Homo sapiens: one gene and its partners. The protein of the gene in region 1 interacts with the protein of each later gene in a biochemical or structural test. Each region holds a gene or a part of one and is shown in the gene's direction. Other genes may lie near its edges.

Evidence for each region.
Region 2: the proteins of EIF4E (region 1) and BIRC2 form a complex in vitro, tested with the Homo sapiens proteins (one study listed by BioGRID).
Region 3: the proteins of EIF4E (region 1) and RNMT form a complex in vitro, tested with the Homo sapiens proteins (one study listed by BioGRID and IntAct).
Region 4: the proteins of EIF4E (region 1) and IPO9 form a complex in vitro, tested with the Homo sapiens proteins (one study listed by IntAct).

Annotation. Positions count from the first base shown.
Region 1 is NC_000004.12:98,898,101-98,905,138, reverse strand, and holds part of EIF4E (eukaryotic translation initiation factor 4E), read left to right. Parts: intron 1-3,156; coding exon 3,157-3,263; intron 3,264-7,038. UniProt on the Homo sapiens protein: Acts in the cytoplasm to initiate and regulate protein synthesis and is required in the nucleus for export of a subset of mRNAs from the nucleus to the cytoplasm which promotes processes such as RNA capping, processing and splicing.
Region 2 is NC_000011.10:102,364,204-102,371,241, forward strand, and holds part of BIRC2 (baculoviral IAP repeat-containing protein 2), read left to right. Parts: intron 1-4,102; coding exon 4,103-4,345; intron 4,346-7,038. UniProt on the Homo sapiens protein: Multi-functional protein which regulates not only caspases and apoptosis, but also modulates inflammatory signaling and immunity, mitogenic kinase signaling, and cell proliferation, as well as cell invasion and metastasis.
Region 3 is NC_000018.10:13,736,657-13,743,694, forward strand, and holds part of RNMT (mRNA cap guanine-N(7) methyltransferase), read left to right. Parts: intron 1-353; coding exon 354-479; intron 480-3,510; coding exon 3,511-3,623; intron 3,624-4,853; coding exon 4,854-5,035; intron 5,036-5,831; coding exon 5,832-5,996; intron 5,997-7,038. UniProt on the Homo sapiens protein: Catalytic subunit of the mRNA-capping methyltransferase RNMT:RAMAC complex that methylates the N7 position of the added guanosine to the 5'-cap structure of mRNAs. Binds RNA containing 5'-terminal GpppC.
Region 4 is NC_000001.11:201,881,146-201,884,818, forward strand, and holds the end of IPO9 (importin-9), read left to right. Parts: 3' UTR 1-3,146; downstream 3,147-3,673. UniProt on the Homo sapiens protein: Nuclear transport receptor that mediates nuclear import of proteins, such as histones, proteasome and actin. Serves as receptor for nuclear localization signals (NLS) in cargo substrates.

The DNA of each region.
Region 1 (7,038 bases):
GAGGAATATGGTAGGATTTTGCAGTAGAGTTTTGTTTTTAAACTGAATGTAAACTTAAAACTATTTAGTGTCTATAGGAAGCAATCTTAAAAATAAGGTTAGATACCTTAAAATAGAACTTGTTTCTTGAAATATTTTTTAGTTCCCATATAGATCATACGAAAAGATGACTGTCTATGCCCAATAAAAATTTTTATGGTATTTCACATCATTCGTTTTAAAATCTAGTATGTTTAAAAGTGAAGACTAAAGATTTTAAATTAGTATACTTACTGATTCATACATACACACATATTTAAAAATGTGTAGCTCCTTTTTTAAGTTGTTGGAAAAGTACAAAATCATGTGTCCTTTTTTGTTTTGTTTTGAGACTGAGTTTTGCTCTTGTCGCCCAGGCTGGAGAACAGTGGCACGATCTGTGCTCACTGCAATCTCTGCCTCCTGGGTTCAAGCAATTCTCTTGCCTTAGCCTCCCCAGTAGCTGGGATTACAGGCGCGTGCTACCACGCCCAGCTAATTTTTGCATTTTTAGTAGAGATGGGGTTTCACCATGTCGGCCAGGCTGGTCTTGAACTCCTGAGCTCAGGTGGTGCACTTGCCTTGACCTCCCAAAGTGCTGGGATTACAGGCGTGAGCCACCATGCCCGGCCGATTATGTGTTCTTGATATGAAGACTATAGTAATCAGTTACTTACAGTGGGACTTTTATTTTAATTCAAAATAACACTTTAAAATTCTAGGAACTGAATATGTTTTTCCTGAGTGATAACTTGCTTTTAATTCCTGTATGTCCAAAGACTTGAGAGAGAGAGAGAAAGAGGATTGTTTCTTTTTCTTTCTTCCCCTTTCTTCACTGGGTCTCACTTGCTGAGGCTGTTTTCGAACTCCTGGACTCAAGCAGTCCTCTCGCCTTGGCCTCTCAAAGTGCTGCAATTACAGACATAAGTCCCTGCACCCGTTCTGCTTACGTTTCACAAATACTGGGCAGTTGCAAGTTTTGGCTTAGCTGTTCTTCTCTGTTAGGCCAACCAGAGTTACGCTCTGAAAGTGCCAGTTTAGGAGTTAGCCAAAAACCTGTGAGGGATTTTTACATATATTGAGGAGCCCACTTCTCATCTACAGCAGTTTTTCTCTGGTACCCTGTCCCCCAAAGCCTACCTGCCTGCCAGTCTCTCATTGTTTTCATCGAGACTCCCACTGTCTGCCTGGAAACCCATCATTAATTTTAAGCTAGTGGGATAGGAAATGTCATTCAGTAATTATCTGTTTGAACACTTAAATTTACTGGTAAGTAAATGTTGATAAAAATGTTTGGTTTTAAGGCATTACTTACTGTATGTCAATTTTCAGGCCTTAATCATTCTGTGTAAACATTTAAATTTATTCAGTTAAGTAATCAAGTTAATAAGTTCCTGTTGGGTTAAGTACTGTGATTATTGAGTAAAATCAAGACATGGTCTCCGTTCTGGGTGACTTTATAGGCTAATAGAAATTCTTGTACATGTCATATGTTGATAAGAAAAAACATATCCCTTGGGAGGCCAAGGTGGGAGGATTGCTTGAGCTCAGGAGTTTGAGACCAGCCTGGCCAACATGGTGAGACCTTGTCTCTACTAAAAATAAAAAAGAATTAGCCAGGTATCATGGTGCCTATCTGTAGTCCCAGTTACCGTGGAAGCTGAGGCAAGAAGATTGCTTGAGCCAGGGAGATTGAGGCTGCAGTGAGCTATGAGTGAGACCCCATCTCTAAGAAAAATAAAATACAAAAAAAAAAAAAACCCATATTCTTTCAAATAAATATTTACCACCTTTCTGCTCTGCATTCTTTTAGACAATAAATATTTGACTTACATATCTTGTTATGTTAACATAGATCTCTGTTGTTTGCTGCTTCAGTCTGATATCCAAACACTTGTTGCATTGCCCTTTTTTTGGTATCAGTCTTTGTCCTAGTGCCTTTCTTTGGCTCTCTTCTTTTGTTGACAACAATTTATGATAGTATGAAGAGCTACATGGAAGAATGTGGTGAACACCTATTTTAAATTACTGCCCCCAGACTACTTTTCTTTCTGATATTTTTAGATGACAGTGTTAATTTTGTCTAGCCTAAAAGAAGATTTAAGTTCAAGCCAATGTCCATCTTGTTAGGTTCCATTGAAAATATTAAGTTGCCGAACTTTTAGGTTACGATAGGGTAAACAGTATGCCATGAAGGTAAGACCTGCGCATCATTGGCTTGATCACTTTACAAAGCTTTTTTGTCATCATAATGTTGTTTTGTTTTGTTTTGTTTGTTTTTGAGACAGGGTCTTGCCGTGTTGCCCAGGCTGGTCTCAAACTCCTGGGCTCAAGCAATCCTCCTATTAATCCTCCTATTAATCTCCCGAGTAGCTGGGATTGTAGAGACGCACCACAGTGCCCAGTGATACAGTTGTTATACTCTTGAAACTTTAGTTTCCATCCTGTATCCTTCCTGATACCCCCTTCAGTACCATATGCAGTATCTTAATATGATGGTATGTTAAGAAAGATAGAAGATTTTCCCAACTTTGTTGCATAGTCTGTGACAGTCTTCCTGCTATTTAAAAAAAAAAGTGCAAGTGGAAGGATAACTATAAATACTGTTATATTTTCAAATTTGAGAAACCGTTTGCTCTTTGCTCTTAATGAAGAGATATGAGAATAGAGAATGGTTCTTTAGAGTTTGGTCTGTGGTCTGTTTTATGAAGCAATCTGCTTTAATTCCTTCTTCTTAAAAAATACTACTAGTGCCGGGTGTGGTGGCTCACGCCTGTAATCCCAGCACTTTGGGAGGCCAAGGCAGGTGAATCACAAGGTCAGGAGTTCAAGACCAGCCTGACCAACGGGGTGAAACCCCGTCTCTACTAAAAATACAAAAATTAGCCAGGCATGGTGGCACACATCTGTAATCCCAGCTACTTAGGAGGCTGAGGCAGGAGAACTGCTTGAACCTGGGAGGAGGAGGAGGTTGCAGTGAGCCAAGATCGCACGACTGCACTCCAGCCTGGGCAACAGAGAGAGACTCTGTCTCAAAAAAAAAAAATTATCAGCATATCAGTTCAGGTTTAGTTAGAATATTGCTGTCATAGATGTGTTAAGACATTTAAAATAATGTTTTATATTATTTTCCACTAGGAAACCACCCCTACTCCTAATCCCCCGACTACAGAAGAGGAGAAAACGGAATCTAATCAGGAGGTTGCTAACCCAGAACACTATATTAAACATCCCCTACAGAACAGGTAAGCTTTCTAACACCTAGGTTTTCTGAGTTAGGCCACAAGGTAAATTGTGAATGGGGCAAGTTTGAAGGGAAAGTTAGATTATGAGACTAGTTTTAGATATGCTAAGGTTGAGGGTTCTATTTTCACTTGGATGACCCATGACCAGCAGACAGTTTTATGTGTGAGTCTTGAGTTCAAAAGGAGCTATGTGAGAGATTAGTTTGAAAAGTATTGGTCATAATGGAAGCCACATTAGTAAATAAGTTCCCTTAAGGAGAAGTGAACTTGACTCAGGACAAAGACCGGGGATACTAGCATCATATAGGAGGCTTTTGTTGAAGAAGAATGCCTATGAAGGATGGACATACAAAGACAGTGGTGGTCGCCCAACGCGGTGGCTCACGCCTGTAAACCCAGCACTTCAGGAGGCGGAGGCGGAGGCGGAGGCGGGCGGATCACCTGAGGTCAGGAGTTTGAGACCAACCTGGCCAACATGGTGAAACCCCGTCTCTACTAAAAAATACAAAAATTAGCTGGGTATGGTGGCAGACGCCTGTAATCCCAGCTGCTCGGGAGGCTGAGGTGAGATAATTGCTTGAACCCAGGAGGTGCAGGTTGCAGTGAACTGAGATCGCGCCATTGCCTGCCAGCCTGGGCAACAAGAGCGAAACTCCATCTCAAAAAAAAAAAAAAGAGACAGTGGTGGTCATGGAAACCAAGAAGGTGGTTTATTCTAAGATAGGGTGGTTTACAGCACATGTGCTAAAAAGGTCAAATGAAGCAAGATGTCAAAATATCCATTGGATTGAACACTTTTAAAAAAGTCCGTGCTGACTTGGGAAAAAGTTTTTTAGTAAGGTTCCATAGAGTAGTTCCATAAAACATGGAAAAAGAGATTAGGGCAGTTTGAAGAGTGAATAGGAGATATACAGATGTATAGAGTAAGAACAGGTGACTTGAAGTTGGACTGAGAATGAGAAACGAGAGCCAGGGAATGTGGAGTTTGAAGGTTGGTTGGTTTGTAAGTGAGAGACTAGAAAAGGGGACAGATTAAAATTAGTTAAGTTTTCATAGTTAATAGTGTAACAGGAAATTGAGTATTAGTTCATTATATGGCTTTTCCCAACTCTTCCCACTCCTTTCCAGTAGGTTTGTTTTTATTTATTTTCTGGGGTATATGAGAATTAACTTGAGTTCACTGAATGCTGATGGTGGGAAGAAAATGGCAGTTCAGAAACATTGTAACAATCTAGAGGAAAGTAAATTGGAATTAACTTCTGAGGTTCTTGAAGTATTTCAGTTCATTTCTTGTCTTTTTTTGTTTTTATTTACTTTTTTTAGGGCAGACCATTCACTCTCTACTTAAAAGAGTCCACAAGTCTATTTATAATTGTTTCATTTATTAAAATTTTTTTATGATCTCAATTTTTTTAAATGTTTCCTTTATTCATCATGGAAGACCTACTGAAATAAATAGTTCAAATATGCTGTATGCAGTTTTCTCATAGGAGACCCTTTGGTTCAGTATATCCTCCAGTGAGGAACAAATCAGTTTTTTAGACAATGGAGATTCTCAGCTAGTGGGACATCAGAGGTCAAACAGTCTATAAAGGATAAAATCCTTCCTCAGGGAAGCAATGTACCACATGTATTAGGTTGAACAATTCGTTAGAGGCAGTCTTATATAGTTTAACCTAATAGTAGCACCAAAACCCACATTTTTTTTTCATTTTTTTCAGTGATATGAAACAAACTGTATATCTTCTAGCTGTCTGTGAACCTAGTTCTTGGTGTCACTTTTATTGTGGGGAGAAGTAAACAAGGCATATATCCCTCACAGCTTGAATGGAGTCTAAGAAGGGATTCTTAAGTGTCCTCATCAGTTTAAAAAAAAAAAAAAAGTTTAAATCTTAAAATGAAGTCTCTGGGGACTTCAGTTTCTCTATAAATTCTACTTTTTGTGTAAAATAGCAAGTATCATTTGGAAAAATACTATGTTTTATGGCTCCAATTTTGGCAGTTTTCTCATTATTTACTTCTTGCATTTTACTTTCTTCACTCCCCAGAGTAGTCAATGTTAAATTTGGTTTGTATTCCAGAAGTATTAAATGCACATATGTATACTTTTTAATACATACGTCTATACAGTTGACTTTTCTGTTTGTATGTGCATATTTTACCTCATTGTTTTAAACCACCGTCTTGCATTATATTGATATACCACCATATATTTTATTAGGTTTACATTAATGGCTGTATAGATTTTTCTTTTTACACACAGTGCTGTAATTTACATCCTTACATAATTGTGCACTTGTGTGAATATATAGGGTAAAATTTCAGATCTCCTAGAACAAAGATTACCCTTTAACAACCTTTGCGCAGATACTGCCACATTATTCTGTTTTATTGGCTTAGACTTAACAGTTTGAGAGTTCCTGGTTTCTATATCCTTGCTAACTCATGTGATTAGTCTTTTAAGTTGTTGCCAATCAGATTGGTCCCAGTCTGATTTGGGAAAACAATTTCAGTATTTTCAATTTGCATTTTAAAATTGAAGTTTCAAAATATTTTCATATTGATGATTTGTGGTTTTTATCTGAGGACAGATTATTCAGTTCTTCTATTTTTTTTCTTTTGGATTATCTTTTTTTTCCCCTACTTTCAAGCTAACAAGTTATGGAATATCTTTTCAAGTTTATTTCCAAGCATTTTATATTAGAGTGCTAACTCACCCAAGGCAGGGAAGTTGGAGGAGTATTAAGTCAGAAAGAAACAGGTTATCCATATCATTTGTCTTCTAACATTGTCTGTGGAATTGTATGGTTTTTTTTTTTTTAGAGGTCTTTAATTTTCATGTAGGCAAATACTGCTTTTCCTCAGTGGTTTCTGGGTTTCATATCAATTTTAGGAAAACTTTACCACACAGTTAAGCTTTTTTTTTTAAACTTTTTAATAGTTGCATAGTAGTCACTTGCGTGGATGTATGATATTTTATTTAAATCAGCAGTACTCAAGTATTTGGTCTCACAATTCCTTTACACTCTTAAAAATTATTGGTGACTCTACAGAGCTTTATGTGGATTTTTATCTATTGTTATTTACTATATTTTTACAGTAAATAATGCTAAGATGTTATTTTATTTTTCACATTTAAAAATGTATAATTTCACCTGAAAAACTTGAGAAATGTAAAATTATTCGTTTAGAAAATCTATCACATGTTAACCTAAGTGACATTTTGTAATGAAAATAATTATTTGAAATAAAAAATATATAATGGGAAGAACAGCATTTTTGCCATCTGTTTTTTTTTTTTTCGGAGTCTCGCCCTGTCGCCCAGGCTGGACCTCCACCTCCCGGGTTCAAGCGATTCTTCTGCCTCAGCCTCCCTAGTAGCCGGAACCACAGGTGTGTGCCACCATGCCCGGCTAATTTTTGTAGTTTCTAATAGAGACGGGGTTTCACCATGTTGGCCAGGCTGATCTTGAACTCCTGACCTCATGATCCACCCACCTCGGCCTCGCAAAGTGCTGGGATTACAGGCATGAGCCACCGCACCTGGCCGCATTTTTGCCGTCTTAGAAGTCAACTGGATTTTCATAGCTGTTTCTGCCTTCAGTCTATGGAGTTAAGATGTTTCATTGGAAGTATAAGAAGACAATACAGCCTCACACAGGTATTTGGTTGGAAAAGGGAGAATAGTTTTTAAAAGCCTTTAAAAATAATTGTTGATATGCTCCTTTGATACACTACTAGGTTTCTTTTTTCCCCCCCCTTTTTCGTAGGACAC
Region 2 (7,038 bases), on another chromosome or scaffold:
GAGAGAGAGAGAGTGTAATGACACTGTGGAGGACCCTAAAAGTGTACTAGTTTTTGTTCTAGTGCTATACTTATCACTTTTAGTGCTGACATTCCAACTGGAGAAATGAGACATAAGCAAAAGAAAAACAAAAAATAGTTCAAAGCAATGCCAAATAAGCGGTGCAAATAATAAACCCTCCAGAAAAGAAGAGTTTGCTGTGAGTTGGCATGATTTGGAAAACGTCAATTCACATATGATTCAAGAATTGGACTAGATGTTAGGTATTTAAGTCAGGTATGTTGTATTTCAGTGCAAGGGCAGGAAATAGTATAGCTTTTGATTAGAGCTTAATGTTAGCCACATCTGTCAATTTATGTAATATACATATGTTATTGTGTCTAAAATGGCTAAGGTAGTAATCCCGTTTTATGTGCCAATCACATCTACAAAGGGCCATTCTGTTTGTGGCACAGCATTTCAAGAAAGATTGGCAGATTTGTTAACTGGACCAGAGAAAGGTGACCAAGATGTATGAGTCTTAGAAACCATGGCTCAGGAGGATTGGATGAAGGATTTGGTAGTATTTGACTGGAAAATAGGAAGGAGAGTACTGGAAAATAGGAAGGAGAGTACCTGGGTACATGACAACTATCTCCCGTGTAATAGACCTAGAAAAGATAGATAGCAGTGTGGGCTGTTCTTAAAATTTATAACCACTGCTATTAAGTAGGCTGCCCTGCAGTTCTACCATAGGTCCTAATAAAATCACTTTGTCAATCTTTAAAATGACTGTTTCTTGTTTTCTGTCTTGATAATTTTCTAACACTCTCTTCCCACCTTACTGTCAGTTTATAATCTTGCTTCCCTAAGAAAATAGAATCCAAAAGAGAGCTGCTTTATTGCCTCACCAGCAAAACCACTAGGCTACATAATTTATCCTTGTACTTTTCTGTTTGTTCATAAAAGATGAATTGTCCTTGCCCTTTTCTAAGGCCATTACTTCTACTTGTCCTCTGTATTCCATCCCCTACTGTCAACTTAAGAAGGTTACTTTGGCAGTGACATACCCTTTCTCTCGAGTCTTCAATTTTTCCACCTCTCCTGAATCACTCATGTTAGCATATAAACATAATGTACTTTTGCTAATCCTAGGAAAATTTCCATGAATGAATGTCCCCATTCAGCTATTACCTTATTACTCTGCTTCCCTTTACAACAAAATACCTAGGAAGATTTATCTGTGCTTAACTCTGTTTTACTTCCTCACCTTTCATTCTTTCACTTGTTCTGCTAGAAACTGTTCTTGTCATGGTAACCAGGGACTGCCGTGTTAGCAAATCCACTACTTGACCTGTTAATTAGCATTTGATAATCACTGGGTGCTTTGTCGTTGTTTTTTCTTTTTGTGAAACAAGGTCTCACTTTGTCACCCAGGCTGTAGTGTGGTTAGGTGCCATCATGGCTCACTGCAGCCTTAACTTCCCTGGCTCAGGTGATTCTCTCACCTCAGCCTCCCAAGTAGCTGGGACTACAGGCATGCACCATCACATTCAGCTAAGTGTGTGTGTGTGTGTGTGTGTGTGTGTTTGTAGATACAGGGTTTCACCATGTTGCCCAGGCTGGTCTCAAACTCTTGAGCTTAAGCAATCTGCCTGCCTCGGCCTCCCATAGTGCTGGGATTGCAGGCATGAGCCACTGCATTTGGCCTCATCTTTCTTAAGACACATTTTTTGCTTGACTTATCAGACCCCATACTCTTGGTTTTCTATTTCCCTGGTTGGTCCTGAACAATTTCCTTTGTTGGCTGCTCCTTTTTCAAACTTCAAAATGTTGGAGTACCCCTCATAGCTCAGCTTAAATTTATTTCTCCATTTCCTGAGCCCCAAGCTGGAATGTCCAGCTAACTGTTTAAATCTCTACTTGGCTGTAACAGACATTGTAGAGTTAATATGACCAAACCGGAAATTTTCTTCCCCATTCTTCATCCCTCAGATTTGTTCCTTCTTTGGTCTTCCCCATCTCAGTTAATGGTACTCATTTCCCAGCATTAAAAGTTGGCTCAAGTTAGGCATCATCTCTGATTCCTCTCCTTCCTTTAGTTTGTATATTTAATCTATCAGAAGTCTTTTCATTTCTGTCTTCATAACATATGCCAAATCTGACTACATCTCACCATCTCCACCACTGTTTTTTTTTTTTGAGATGGAGTCTTGCTCTGTTGCCCAGGCTGGAGTGCAGTGGCGCAATTTTGGCTCACTGGAAGCTCCACCCGCCGGGTTCACGCCATTCTCTTGCCTCAGCCTCCCAGGTAGCTGGGACTACAGGCGCCCACCACCACGCCCGGCTAATTTTTTGTATTTTTTTTTAGTAGAGATGGGGTTTCACTGGATTAGCCAGGATGGTCTCGATCTCCTCACCTCATGATCCGCCCGCCTTGGCTCCCAAAGTGCTGGGATTACAGGCATGAGCCACCATGCCCGGCCCTCCACCACTATTAACCTAATCCAAACTACCGTCATCTGTGTCTAACATCCTAACAAGTCTTCCTGATTCTGGTTTACCCCATTAAAGTAACATCTCCACCGAGCTGCCAGAGTCATCTTCTGAAAACACAAGTCAAGTTTTATCAGTTGCATGCTTGAAACACTCCTAGAATATTCTACCAAACTTAGAATAAAATATAAACTCTTAGGAAGCCTCTGCTTATCTGGGCATTGTCCTCCTTTTTTTACCTTCTACCACCTTCTTTCTGTTTCTTGATCATGTCAAGCTTTTCCCTCAATTTAAGGTTTTTACACTTGCTGTTCTCTTTGCTTAGAAGACTTCTTTGAGATATTTCCATAGCTCACTCCTTTTTCCCCCCAGTATTAATAATTTTACATGTAATAGATGTATACATTCTTCATAAGGGAAAGAAAACTAAATGCTGTAGGCAATGCCAAATTCCCCTCTGATGCTTACATACAGTTCTGTTTCTAACTTCTAATACCCAGAGCTCAGTAGCATGGGCTAGGTATATACCAGTTTAGTTCGTTTGTATATTTTTAAATTTTTTCACAGTAGTCCAGCATATATTGCATTTTATTTATCCATTCCCTATTGAGAGCTATTCCTGTTATTTTCTGTTTTTTTTTTTCTGCTGTAAATATTGCTGTAATGATCCTCTAATGTGTCTCTTATCTTGAACATAAAGTATTTCCTCAAGGCATGCGCTTAAAAATGAAATAGAGCTCATTCCTTGTTATTTAAATCTTTGTTCTGGTGCCATTTCTTCGGACACGGATTCCACGCGTGTTTGAACAAGAGGGGACATTGTTGACGTTGTATATTTATTATAAGTTTCCAGAAGATGGCAGTAGTGTCTTGAAGAATTATGTCTTTTTGTATTTTTTCATAAAAGTATCATATGGGCTAGCATTGACTCTTAGCAGAAAATGCTTCCCTGACTACCCTATCTAAAATGACTTCCTGCTTCCTGGTTTCTTTTAATGACCTTACACTACTTTTTTCTTCAGAGCATCTGTCACTGTCTAAAATCATACTGCCTTAATTACTTCTGAAGCCATACTTTTTCACTACATCTTCTGGGTGAACTGATCTTCTATTTTACTATACTTCCCATTTTTGTTTATGTTATTCTCTCTACCTCAGCAATCCACTTGTCTAGACCCTGTCCATCCTTCAAGTCCAAACTCTAATGCGCCACTTTTCCATGAAGTCTTTGTGATTTCCCCCCACTTTCCTGGCTGGAGAAGATTATTTCTCACTTCTAAGTTCGTATAGCATATTGGTTTCCAGAAATGACTATACATCAGAATCATTTGGGAAATATTCAAAAGATACAGATTCCTAATTCTTATCCTTAGAGAATCTTTCATTAAGTAAGTCTAGGATGTAGCCAGAGAGGTGGGTTTTGTAAAAAGTATAGCATATTAATTGTATTCTCATTTGACCATTATGAAGTTCAAACTTTTATTGGAGTTATAGGTAATCGATGCATATAGCTCATCTCCTTTACCAGAATATGAGAGTAAAGGATGAATAAAGATTGTGCCATGATACTTTTTTCCATAGGTTTATGTTTGTGGAATTTAATATTAGCATGTTTCTTTTCAAATAGTTATTCATTTTGGACCTGGAGAAAGTTCTTCAGAAGATGCTGTCATGATGAATACACCTGTGGTTAAATCTGCCTTGGAAATGGGCTTTAATAGAGACCTGGTGAAACAAACAGTTCAAAGTAAAATCCTGACAACTGGAGAGAACTATAAAACAGTTAATGATATTGTGTCAGCACTTCTTAATGCTGAAGATGAAAAAAGAGAAGAGGAGAAGGAAAAACAAGCTGAAGAAATGGCATCAGGTATTTGGGGATGTTAGTCACCTGCATTGTTTCTCAGTGGAGCTCTTAGGACTGTCTCACATGTTACAGGACACCATGCTTGTTTCACATCCACTAACTGCTGGTAGCAGTCCTCCAGTCATTTCGAAACCATCCCTCCTTTTCTACCCCTTTCAATTGCTTCTAGTTGAGAACCATTGACTGCCGCTTTTTTCTATACATTTATTTTCGGATGAGGTTCTCTGATTTATGCCAATCAGAGAATTTTAGCATAATAAGCTCTTTCTTGAGCTGTATTCCATTTCTTTCTCATACATAACAAATTTAAATTGTTTTGAAAAAGCAAGATGTTAAAGTTGGATGCAGGTCTTTTTTCAACCTGTTTTTTTTTTTAAGTTTCTGCAAATCATATTTTTAATAGGATACTTTACTCCCTAATCCTTGCTAAGTGATCCTCATACACAAAATAGAACTTACAATGAAATTCTGGGGCTTGATGAGAACCACCTGCCCAATCCAAGGATAACAGGAAAACTGATTTTTGTATTCGTCCAGATAGTATTAAGTCTCGGCCTCTCAAAACAAGTATTTTGAGTAATCATTTATTCCTTCAATAAATTTTTTTTTTTCTTTTTTCTATTTTTTTTTAATTATACTTTAAGTTTTAGGGTACATGTGCACATTGTGCAGGTTAGTTACATATGTATACATGTGCCATGCTGGTGCGCTGCACCCACTAACTCATCATCTAGCATTAGGTATATCTCCCAATGCTATCCCTCCCCCCTCCCCCCACCCCACCACAGTCCCCAGAGTGTGATATTCCCCTTCCTGTGTCCATGTGATCTCATTGTTCAGTTCCCACCTATGAGTGAGAATATGCGGTGTTTGGTTTTTCGTTCTTGCGATAGTTTACTGAGAATGATGATTTCCAATTTCATCCATGTCCCTACAAAGGACACGAACTCATCATTTTTTATGGCTGCATAGTATTCCATGGTGTATATGTGCCACATTTTCTTAATCCGGTCTATCATTGTTGGACATTTGGGTTGGTTCCAAGTCTTTGCTATTGTGAATAATGCCGCAATAAACATACGTGTGCATGTGTCTTTATAGCAGCATGATTTATAGTCATTTGGGTATATACCCAGTAATGGGATGGCTGGGTCAAATGGTATTTCTAGTTCTAGATCCCTGAGGAATCGCCACACTGACTTCCACAATGCTTGAACTAGTTTACAGTCCCACCAACAGTGTAAAAGTGTTCCTATTTCTCCACATCCTCTCCAGCACCTGTTGTTTCCTGACTTTTTAATGATTGCCATTCTAACTGGTGTGAGATGGTATCTCATTGTGGTTTTGATTTGCATTTCTCTGATGGCCAGTGATGATGAGCATTTTTTCATGTGTTTTTTGGCTGCATAAATGTCTTCTTTTGAGAAGTGCCTGTTCATGTCCTTTGCCCACTTTTTGATGGGGTTGTTTGTTTTTGTCTTGTAAATTTGTTTGAGTTCATTGTAGATTCTGGTTATTAGCCCTTTGTCAGATGAGTAGGTTGCGAAAATTTTCTCCCATTTTGTAGGTTGCCTGTTCACTCTGATGGTAGTTTCTTTTGCTGTGCAGAAGCTCTTTAGTTGAATTAGATCCCATTTGTCAATTTTGGCTTTTGTTGCCATTGCTTTTGGTGTTTTGGACATGAAGTCCTTGCCCATGCCTATGTCCTGAATGGTAATGCCTAGGTTTTCTTCTAGGGTTTTTATGGTTTTAGGTCTAACATTTAAATCTTTAATCCATCTTGAATTGATTTTTGTATAAGGTGTAAGGAAGGGATCCAGTTTCAGCTTTCTACATATGGCTAGCCAGTTTTCCCAGCACCATTTATTAAATAGGGAATCCTTTCCCCATTGCTTGTTTTTCTCAGGTTTGTCAAAGATCAGATAGTTATAGATACGCGGTGTTATTTCTGAGGGCTCTGTTCTGTTCCATTGATCTATATCTCTGTTTTTGTACCAGTACCATGCTGTTTTGGTTACTGTAGCCTTGTAGTATAGTTTGAAGTCAGGTAGTGTGATGCCTCCAGCTTTGTTCTTTTGGCTTAGGATTGACTTGGCAATGCGGGCTCTTTTTTGGTTCCATATGAACTTTAAAGTAGTTTTTTCCAATTCTGTGAAGAAAGTCATTGGTAGCTTGATGGGGATGACATTGAATCTGTAAATTACCTTGGGCAGTATGGCCATTTTCACGATATTGATTCTTCCTACCCATGAGCATGGAATATTCTTCCATTTGTTTGTATCCTCTTTTATTTCCTTGAGCAGTGGTTTGTAGTTCTCCTTGAAGAGGTCCTTCACATCCCTTGTAAGTTGGATTCCTAGGTATTTTATTCTCTTTGAAGCAATTGTGAATGGGAGTTCACTCATGATTTGGCTCTCTGTTTGTCTGTTGTTGGTGTATAAGAATGCTTGTGATTTTTGTACATTGATTTTGTATCCTGAGACTTTGCTGAAGTTGCTTATCAGCTTAAGGAGATTTTGGGCTGAGACAATGGGGTTTTCTAGATATACAATCATGTCGTCTGCAAACAGGGACAATTTGACTTCCTCTTTTCCTAATTGAATACCCTTTATTTCCTTCTCCTGCCTAATTGCCCTGGCCAGAACTTCCAACACTATGTTGAATAGGAGTGGTGAGAGAGGGCATCCCTGTCTTGT
Region 3 (7,038 bases), on another chromosome or scaffold:
GTTTTTCTAATCCTTACTTAGCTTTTTCTCTCATCCTGAACAAGTGTTGTGTTGTCTTATATTAGAATTTTAAATATCTGCTATTTAAAATTCATTTTTGAAAGTTAACATTCAAAATGCTGCCTTTATTTTCCAAAACACCAGACACGTACTCTTTAATGATAGAGGATCAGATTAATCAACTCTTAGTCATATTTTTAGTTACTTATCAGAAGTTACAAATTACATAAATGGATGTGTAATAGTTTATGTTACATATTGGGCAAAAGATAGTAGGTTATTAGAGGTAACAGTTTATACTTCAGTAAAATTGAAGAAGAGGTAGTTTATTGTGACTGATTTCTCTCTTTTAGGAGAATTTTTGGAAAAGGTACGACAGAAGAAAAAACGTGATATCACTGTTTTGGACCTGGGATGTGGTAAAGGTGGAGATTTGCTGAAATGGAAAAAAGGAAGAATTAACAAGCTAGTTTGTACTGGTAAGATAAATAATGATATGGGAAAGAATAATTTGTAGTCAGATAAATGGAAAATAAGAAGGATTGTCTCAAATTGCAAGATATCTGGGACTATGCATGAGATGGGTTTTTTTTAAATTAATTACGGCCTGACGCGGTGGCTCATGCCTGTAATCCAACATTTTGGAAGGCTGAGGTGGGTGGATCACTTGAGGTCAGGAGTTTGAGACCGGCCTGGCCAACATTGTGAAACCCTGTCTCTACTAAAAATACAGAAAATTAGCTGGGCATGGTGGTGCACACCTGTAATCTCAGCTACTCAGGAAGCTGAGGCAGGAGAATCACTTTTACCTGGGAGGTGAAGGTTATAGTAAGACAAGATCGCACCACTGCACACCAGCCTGAGTGACAGAGCAAGACTCCGTCTCGAAAAAAAAAAAATTAGTTACAAGACTTTCCTGATAGTTTCATAGTAAGATTAATAAGCCTGGGATAACGTTTCCTTCCCAAAAGGAAGGAAGCTATCAAAGATGGTCGGAGTCATGTCTAAAGGGCAGACTTGAAAAGGTTTCCATTGGCAAAAATAGGGCAATTTTAACATTAAAAAAAAAATAGCAGTTGGACACATCAAATCAGAAAAACACATTGTTCACCCTTGAAGGTTGCTAAGAAACTATTCTGAAACTTATAAATTAAGGGGAGGAAATCAAACATTTGTAATCAGATGGTTGAAAAGGGCAGTTCCTTTTTTTTTTCAATCAGATAAAGAGGAATTATAGAATTAGAAAATCATAATTTTTTTCATTCTTTATGAAATAATAGATCTAGGCAATAATTTTTTTTTTTTGCTACGGAAGCCATTAAGGGAAAAGTCGATAGTAACGCAATGAATCAATCAATCAATCACCTTAGCCCGGTGGTTAGTCTTAACACTGAAGTGGGACAAGCAGACGTCAGCGTCTTTCTGATGTGGTGAGTTAAAAGAGATACATACCCCCACTACTGAAGTACTGCCCAAATTAGCAGTTCTCAGATTTTTTGGTTTTATGAGCCCTGTATACTTAAAAATTATTGAGGACCCCAGAAAGCTTTTTTGTATGTAATTATGGTAAGTAGCTACTGATATTTACTATATTGGAAATTAAAGCTGAGAATTTTGAAAATATTTTTTAGTTCATTAAAAGTAACAAGGCTGGCTTTTACATTTTTGTAAATCCCTTTAGAGTTTGAAATTGCAGGAGACAACTGGATTCTCACACCTGTTTCTGCATCCAATATGTTGTGATTTTATTTTGGTTGATAAGTAGTTGTAAAATAAAGAAGTATTTTAATAGCCTTTTTTGATAATTGTAGATATTCCTCTGTTACTACATCAAAACTCAGTAAGTGGTAGTTTCTTAAAGAGTAGTTACAATATGGAATCTGAAACCTTAGTGATGAACTTTTTATACCGTGTAACATTAAAATCCATTAATCTGTCTTGCACTTCCTGCATGATTTTATAGTACTTGGAAAATACTGTTCACTAAAGTTATGCAGATCTAATTGTTGAGAATCAAAAAATCACGTGTTTAATATCACTGCCAATCAGAAAAGTATTGGGAAGAAGTCCAGCCCACAGTGATCAATACGAGTTTTTCAGGGTTGTAATTCTTATTTGAAAGTCAATTTTATTTTTGGCAACAAATACACTGTCCCTTGTCTCCCTTTAAATTAGCGATCCCTAACCTTTTTGGCACCAGGGGCCGGTTTCATGGAAGACTGTTTTTCCACAGAAGCGGGGGGATGGAATTCTACCTCAGATCATCAGGTGTTAGATTCTCATAAGGAGTATGCAACCTAGCTTGCCTGCCACTCACCTCCTGCTGTGCAGCCTGGTTCCTAACAGGCCGTGGACCTGTACTGGTTTGTCGCCCAAGGGTTGGGGAACTTTAAGTGACAGGTTCACTTTGTTCATTTTCAAGAAAATATGTGCCAGGTACTGAAGTCTGCATAACCGTAGTTTGTCAGTCATTCAAGTCAAAATAATTTTCTCAGAAAAAAAGTGGCCAGTACAGCTCAAAACTCAGAACAGTCATATCAGTACTGTTCTTGAAGATGACCATCATACTTTGTTAGGTAGCAGAAATGTTTTGTTACTTCCCATTTCATCACACAACATTTTAAAAAGTGTGTATTCAAAAGCCCAGGTTTAATAAAATTAATTTTCACTATTTTATAAAGGGTATTCTTAAATGAAACTGTTTTTCTCCCCCTGCATATTGTATAGTGGTGAAGAATACATGAAGTACTGCCAGTACCATTTAGTGCTGCTACTTTGTATTTGTGATAAGATCCCATTGCCTTTGCATTATCAGTGTGAATCTTTAAACAGGGAAAAGGGCAGGCTGGGCACAGTGGTTCATGCCTATAATCCCCAGCACTTTGGGAAGCAAAGGAGGGTGGATCACTTGAGGCCAGAAGTTAGAGACCAGCCTGGCCAATGTGGTGAAACCCCATCCTCTACCAAAAATACAAAAAATTAGCTGGGCATGGTGGCACACAACCTATAATCCTAGCTACTCGGGAGGCTGAGGTATGAGAATCACTTGAACCCTGGAGGCAGAGGTTGCAGTGAGTGAAGATTGCACCACTGCACTCCAGCCTGGGCAATACAGCAAGACTCTGTCTCAAAAAAGAAAAAAAGAAAAGGGCTAATAACATTTTATTATAAAAATATACCCTTGGTATTTCCAAAACTGGGCTTATTGATAGTGTTAGGTTTTATAATTCAGATTGGAATAAAACTTTCTCCTTTTTACTTTGAATAAGCATTTAAAAATCATGATAGAACTTTTATAGCGTCCGTACCTATTGAGACGCTTTTAGTTCCTCTTGAAAACTGATAGGGTATTTGCGTCGGAACAAAGCCCTTTTCTTTTCTTTTAAAGGAAATAAAACCTTTTCACTGGTACTAAGGCTGACTTTTATGCCAGAGTTTGTCAGTTGAGATCAATGTCTAGATTTCTGGCATTCTGTGTTGATACTTACTAATACCCTTCCATCCTTCCAGATATTGCCGATGTTTCTGTCAAACAGTGTCAGCAGCGGTATGAGGACATGAAAAATCGTCGTGATAGTGAATATATTTTCAGTGCAGAATTTATAACTGCTGACAGCTCAAAGGTACAGTTTCTTTCTTTGGTCAATTTATTTTTTACATTTTTAGTTTGGGTAAATAATTTGTTTTAAAAATCAACTCAATTTTTACTTTTTTAAAAAAATTTACTCTTATTTTTTGAGACAGGGTCTTACTCTGTCACCTAGGCTGGAGCACAGTGGCACGATCTCAGCTTACTGCAACCTCTGCCTCCCAGGCTCAAGTGATTCTCCTGCCTCCCAGCCTCCTGAGTAGCTGGGACTACAGGCACATGCCACCACACCCAGCTAATTTTTATATATTTTGTAAAGATGGGGTTTTGCCATGTTGCCAAGGCTGGCCTCAAACTCCTGAGCCCAGGTGATCTGCCTGCCTCCCATAGTGCTGGGATTACAGGCATGAGCCATGGTGCCCGGCTACTCATTTTTTAAAATGTGTTTTGAAACTTTAAAAATCTTGGAATATGCATTTTCACTTTTGACTGGAAATTCTATTATGATAAATTCCCTTGAATGACTCACTGAATACTTGTAATTTTTTGCTTTTAATAATTTGAATTGAAATTAGCTGTTGCTTTTCGGTATGGACATCATTTATTTTCCAGTATTTTGAAATAGAACTGAACTTATACTATGTTTTGTTCACCTTGTAATTTATTAGTTTCCCAACATATCAGAGCCTGTTTGGTTTTTTCCTACCTTCCACCTGTTTCTGAATTTCTTAAAAAGAACTGCTTCAAGGGTGAAAGTCTCACCATGAACTTTTTGTTCTTCATTGACTTATTGACTCACTGAACTGTTATAGATACCTTTAATCATACACATTTTGTTTGAAATTTGAAAGTGAAAAAGATAAGTGGGAGTATACTGCCAGAAAGTTGTAATACCTTTAAAACATTTTTGCATTTTTTAAAAAATGCCAAACGCCAGATGTTTTTTAACTCAAGTTATTGTTGAATGTCATTTTATTTTAGCTGTCAAGTAAAGTGATGAAAGGATCAAGTTGAAATGTCATAATTGACTAATATATTTTAAACATGATTTCAGAATTCCTCAGTTTTTAAATACTGTGAAAGTGGGAATCAAATTATTCTGTTAAACTAGAATACATGCATGATTTCTGTGTGTCCTTTATTGTACAAGGGAAAGATTGTGAGGGAAAGGAAGAACCTTACATTCTAGAAGTTAATTTACTAAAAAGTTTTTAATCTTTGTTGTAGTTACCTCACAATCTTAACTCATTTTAATTTGTTTCAGGAACTTCTGATTGACAAATTTCGTGACCCACAAATGTGTTTTGACATCTGCAGTTGTCAGTTTGTCTGTCATTACTCATTTGAGTCTTATGAGCAGGCTGACATGATGCTGAGAAATGCGTGTGAGAGACTTAGCCCTGGGGGCTATTTTATTGGTACTACTCCCAATAGCTTTGAATTGATGTAAGTACTTCTAAATATATTGTGGTTTATAAAATATTCAGTATTAAGTAGCAAATGTTTATCAGAGGTAGATTTTATTAAAATACGCTATTTTAATCTTATAAGTGTTGAACACTTTCATAAGATATTTGAGTAGACATTCAAAATTTAAATTCAATAGACAAATTTACAGGTGAACTTTTAACAGTTCATCTTTGTGTGTAAGTTAGAGACTGAAGTTATAGTGATAGACAAACTGCAGGTCAGATACACAGGCACAGAGATGAACCAGCTGTCATGAGAGTGATACCTACTTCCAGCTTAATTTTATTGGTGTGACTGTTGGTGATCTTTTAGTATATTGCTTCTTAAAAGTAGCTCAAATCAGGAGAGTGCAGTGGCTCATGCCTATAATCCTAGCACTTTGGGAGGCCAAGGCAGGAGGATTGCTTGAGGCCAGGAGTTTGAGACCAGCCTGGACAACATAGTGAGACCTTGTCTTTACAAAAAATTTACAAATTAGCCAGCATGGTGGCACGCCCCTGTAGTCCTTGCTCAGGAGGCTGAGGCAGGAGGATCACTTGAGCCCAGGAGTTGGTGGCTGTAGTGAGCTATGATCACACCACCACACTCCAGCCTGAATGACAGATTAAGACCTTGTCACTTTAAAAAAAAAAAAAAAAGGTAGCCCAGATATAATTAAAAGGCTAATCAAGTGTGCATCATGTAGTTTTTCACATGCATAATCTGATCAAAATAAGTCTACACTAATCACAATTTTAATCTTTTTATTTTGGTTGGGGGATAACCTTGATAGAAGACGCCTTGAAGCTTCAGAAACAGAATCATTTGGAAATGAAATATATACTGTGAAATTTCAGAAGAAAGGAGATTATCCTTTATTTGGCTGCAAATATGACTTCAACTTGGAAGGTGTTGTGGATGTTCCTGAATTCTTGGTCTATTTTCCATTGCTAAATGAGTAAGAAGTCATTAATCTGTTCACTCTTTTCTTTTTGTCTTAAGGGAAAGAAAAGCGGGGAAAAGCAATATTTATTTTACTCTTTATTTTAAATGAGGGCTAAAGAAAAAGTATAATCTTGTTTTTTTGTTTTTGTGTTTTTAAAAAAAAAAAACAAAACAAGACTAGCTTCACATCTAGGGGATTATTGCCATAGGTCTCATAATAGCCTAACTTAGTTTTCTCTCATTCCTGGAATTTTTTAATCCTGTGGGTGAAAAAGGGAACCAGTTGCCTTCAGCTTGTGGCACAAAATGCCTGACACTGCAAATAGCAAAAGTTTTTTTTTTTTTTTTAGTGACTACTGGTAACTTTGATGATAAACAATGAGTCTTCATAAATCAAAGATCCGGCCGGGCGCGGTGGCTCACGCCTGTAATCCCAGCACTTTGGGAGGCCGAGACGGGCGGATCATGAGGTCAGGAGATCGAGACCATCCTGGCTGACACGGTGAAACCCCGTCTCTACTAAAAATACAAAAATTAGCTGGGCATGGTGGCGCGCGCCTGTAGTCCCAGCTACTCGGGAGGCTGAGGCAGGAGAATGGCATGAACCCGGGAGGCGGAGCTTGCAGTGAGTCGAGATCGCGCCACTGCGCTCCAGCCTGGGCGACAGAGCGAAACTCCGTCTCAAAAAAAAAATAAATAAATAAATAAATAAATAAATAAATAAATAAATAAATCAAAGATCCTCCTTTTGACAGAGATGAGTATTAAAAGTTGTTTGCATTTCACTATAACTTTGAAATTGCCTATGTCTCACAGGCAATGTTGATGATAAAATCCTGATTCAGGAATGTATTCTCCCATGTGCCTGAATTCCTAGGAGTCCTGGCAAACTGTAGACACAGGAAAAGCTGGGGGTAACTGGGCCTTACCAGGTAAGGCTTCAAGGCCTTGTGATACACCTTGGTTTCCAGAGTTTCCCCGGTGGGGAGAGTATAAAAGTCAGCTTAAATGTAGGCCATGTCATGATTGATTGAACTTGATTTTCTACTTTTTAG
Region 4 (3,673 bases), on another chromosome or scaffold:
GGGGAGGAAGTCGGGTAAGTTGCATGGAGAAGGCAACCCTTGAACACTTGCAAGGAGCTAACAATACCTGCTTCTGGAGTATTTAAACGCCAGTGGGTATGCTAAATACTTTTACCTCAGACCACCTACTAACCTTACAAAGTAGTCCACTTTGCTCACCCAGTTTTACAGATTGATGAAACTGAAGCAGACAGATATTGTTAACCTATCAAAGGTCACCCTGCAAGTGTGTGATTATAGTCCAAGCAGCTTGTACTTGTTGCCTATTTGTTTTGCCTTTCCTGTGCATTTGCCAGGCAGATGAGAGTGGGGTAAGACATTGCAGAGAAAAAGTAAGAAAAGGCCGTCATGAAACAATTTCATTTTCAGACCTTATAAGCACGTTACAAGTACTGATATTTATGCTTAAGTTCACGGGAGTCCTGGCCAGAAATAAAGCTGGAAGGACAAGTGGGGGGCAGATTGTGAAGGATCCTTCAAGACCTGCTTCCTCTAGAGAATGGGAGACTACCCAAGATAACTAAACAGGGAAGTGATCAGGTTTTGTGTCTTAGAAAAGTGTTGCAGTGTTGATGCAAATGTGACTAGAAGGGTGACTTGGAACCTGGATTGAAGGGGTGGGAGATGGGAGAAAGGAATGCAGTCTGGCAGCAGCTACAGCAGTCCAGGTGGGAAAACCCAGAGCCTGAACTAAGGTTGTAACTAGAGGGGATAGGGTGGAAGAGCTGGATTAGAGATGTTGACAAGATAAAGTCAGTAGGACTTAAAGACTGACAAGTAAGGATTTTCCAAAAGTGAGAGCTGTGGAATGAATTGTCTTAAAATGTTGCAGTGAGTTCCTCCTCATCAATCCAAGTGCTCGATCAGAGGCTAGACCTTTAGTTAGCAGTCACGGGAAAATTCCCCATTCTCACGGGGATTTAGACTAGGTCTTAACCATACTTTACCAAGATTCCAGTAGCAAAGCACCCAAAAGTAATCGCAATAAAATTCCAATTTTTGTAGGCCGGGCATAGTGGCTCACACCTGTAATCCCAGCACTTTGGGAGGCCGAGGCAGGCGGACCACGACATCAAGAGTTCAAGAGCAGCCTGGCCAGCATGGTGAAACCCCGTCTCTACTAAAAATACAAAAAAATTAGCTGGGCATGGTGGCGCATGCCTATAATCCTAGCTACTCAGGCAGCTGAAGCAGGAGAATTGCTTGAACCCGGGAGGCAGAGGTTGCAGTGAGCCAAGATCATGCCACTACACTCCAGCCTGGGCGACAGAGCGACACTCTGCCTCAAAAAAAAAAAAAAACAAAAAAAAAAACAAGTTTTGTGAATTTAAGTTTCCCTAATGGATGGTACAGGTCAACATTTGCCATCTAATGACACTTACATTCCAGTTTTTTCCTTTTTTGAGTAACTGGGAAAAGGGTGGCATTACTGCTGGCTTCCTAAAATTGAAAAGTATACTAGGGTTTTTAAACCTGTGTAGAATACATGATATGGTAGCAAATGTGCTGTAGGAAGAAAAGCAATGAGGAACTACTGGCCTGACTAGGAGGCCTAGAAGTCCCTCCCAGGCTTGAGTTGTTCTGACTTGGCATGATTACATAGCTGCGGCAAGTGACGTTTCCTTCAAGCCTTGGTTCCCTCATCTGTAAAATAGGGAACTAATACCTACCTCACAGGATTGTAGTTAGAATTAAGGATGACTTCATTAAAGCACCTCTAGTGGTGGAAGATGTCCCATCCTATCCCCCACCCATAGCTGGGAGCTATGTTTGGCTCATTCTTCCTGACTCACTGGATTACACTGTGACTCAGTTCAATTTCACACATGCTGCTGCTAAATTAGGGTCTTGGTGAGCCTTTGGGAGGACAGCTCTGAGGAATGAATTGTAGCACTGCAGCCCTGCCTGAGGAACATGATAGAAACAGGTGGTAGGCCCAGCTCTTGCCTTCCACCTACTAAGCAGTTTTTCTGTGGTTAGCTGTGTGACATAAACTATCGGTGTATTAATTTGCTTTCACTAGATTCCCCCCCCCCCAACAACTTAGTCCAAGAACATACCTGAATTCTTTGCATTTCCTTGCCTTAGTTGCTTTTGTAGGGTGGACAGCAGGACTGCATGAGAATAGCTGTGCTTCTGGACCCTATGGTGAAAGCTCTAGTGAACTGCAATTAGGCCCAGGGTCCCGGAGGAAGAAGGGGAGAGAAAAAGGGGGGTAGTTTTCCAAAAGATAAGTAGGGGACAAAAAAGTCCACGGGGCCTATGAGCGGTGAGACTCCTGCCCTGATTGTGGCAAAGCACCTGGAGATGATAGAACTTCCTAGGGAAAAGGCTGCATGGAGTCCCCAGGGATGCTGGGCCCTGGTCACCAAGGCTCCCTGGGAAGGTCTCTTGTACCTGGGGCACACAGACCAACACTTCTGAATTTGCAAGCTTAAGAGCATGTATGAGCAGAACCTGTGCAGACCAAGGCTTAGAGGGCTCACCTCAATGTTTTGCACTGTGTGAGACCCCAGGACCTTTTCGTGATTCTGGAGAGGGGAACAAACCATAATAACAACAAACCAGGTAGCAGGATAGAGACTCATTCTCATCTATTTTGGTTAAAAGAAAATAAATGTATTTCTTCCACACCTGATTTTGTGATTGCAAATTCATAACTAATATCCCTCGTCAGCTCCGCTGACTCATCCCTGCCACAGGGAGGTTCACAGCAAGAGCACAGAAACTAGGGCCAGTGCCCGGTTGTGTGACCTTGAGTAAGTTCTTTTTCCCTTGAACAGGGAGAGAGACACAATGGATCAGAGTGTCTCTGCCAGTTCTAACTTGGGGATTCTAGTGGGTTGAACCGAACGGTAGTCCGTTTCCAAAAGAGGAAGCCAAGACCAGAGGGGGAGTGGTTCCTTCAAGTTTGCAGAACCAGTAAGTGGCAGAGCAGGACTCATATCTAGTTAGTGGTTCAGAGCATGGGCTCCGGAGCTAGACTGCCTGGATTTGAACCCTGGCTTTGCCACTTGCCTGTTGGGTGACTTTGGACAAGCTGCTTAAATTATGTCTCCATTTCCTAATCCACAGAACAAGTGTAATACTAGTTATCTGTTTCATGGAGTGATTGTGAGGATTAAATAAAGTTAATATAACACAAAGCACTTCGTAGTGCTGCCTCATAGTAAGTGTTAATGTTACCTATTATTAGTCTGATCCCAAGTCTAATGCAGTTGTCACCACCTAAACCTGCCTTTACAGAGCTGGCCTTTCTGAGAAACCCTGTGCCTCTGTAGATTCAACACTCCCATCTGTGCAGATGGCTAACAGCTAGGCTGAAAACAGAAACCTTAGGTTGGAAAGGGTCAGCTGGAGGGCTGAGGCCCATGGCCCCAAATCCTCCCCAGGAGAGAGAGTAGGTTCAGAAAGGAGAGAGCTATAAACAGAGCCTTCCTCCCTTGCCCTCAGATCCCAAAATAACACTTGTCTACCGCCATCCTGCCCAACTGGCAGAGTGGCAGGCTGAGTAAGGTGCCATTTAAAGATAACCTGGCCCTCACCATCTGCCCCACTGGCTGGGCTGGGCTCCTGAGGCCAGGCCTTGGCTGCCTGGGACTGCTGCTGCTCCCACAGCCACCCAGAGTGTGCCTGAGTAGGGGGCTGCTCACAGCTGCCATCCAAGCCAGCC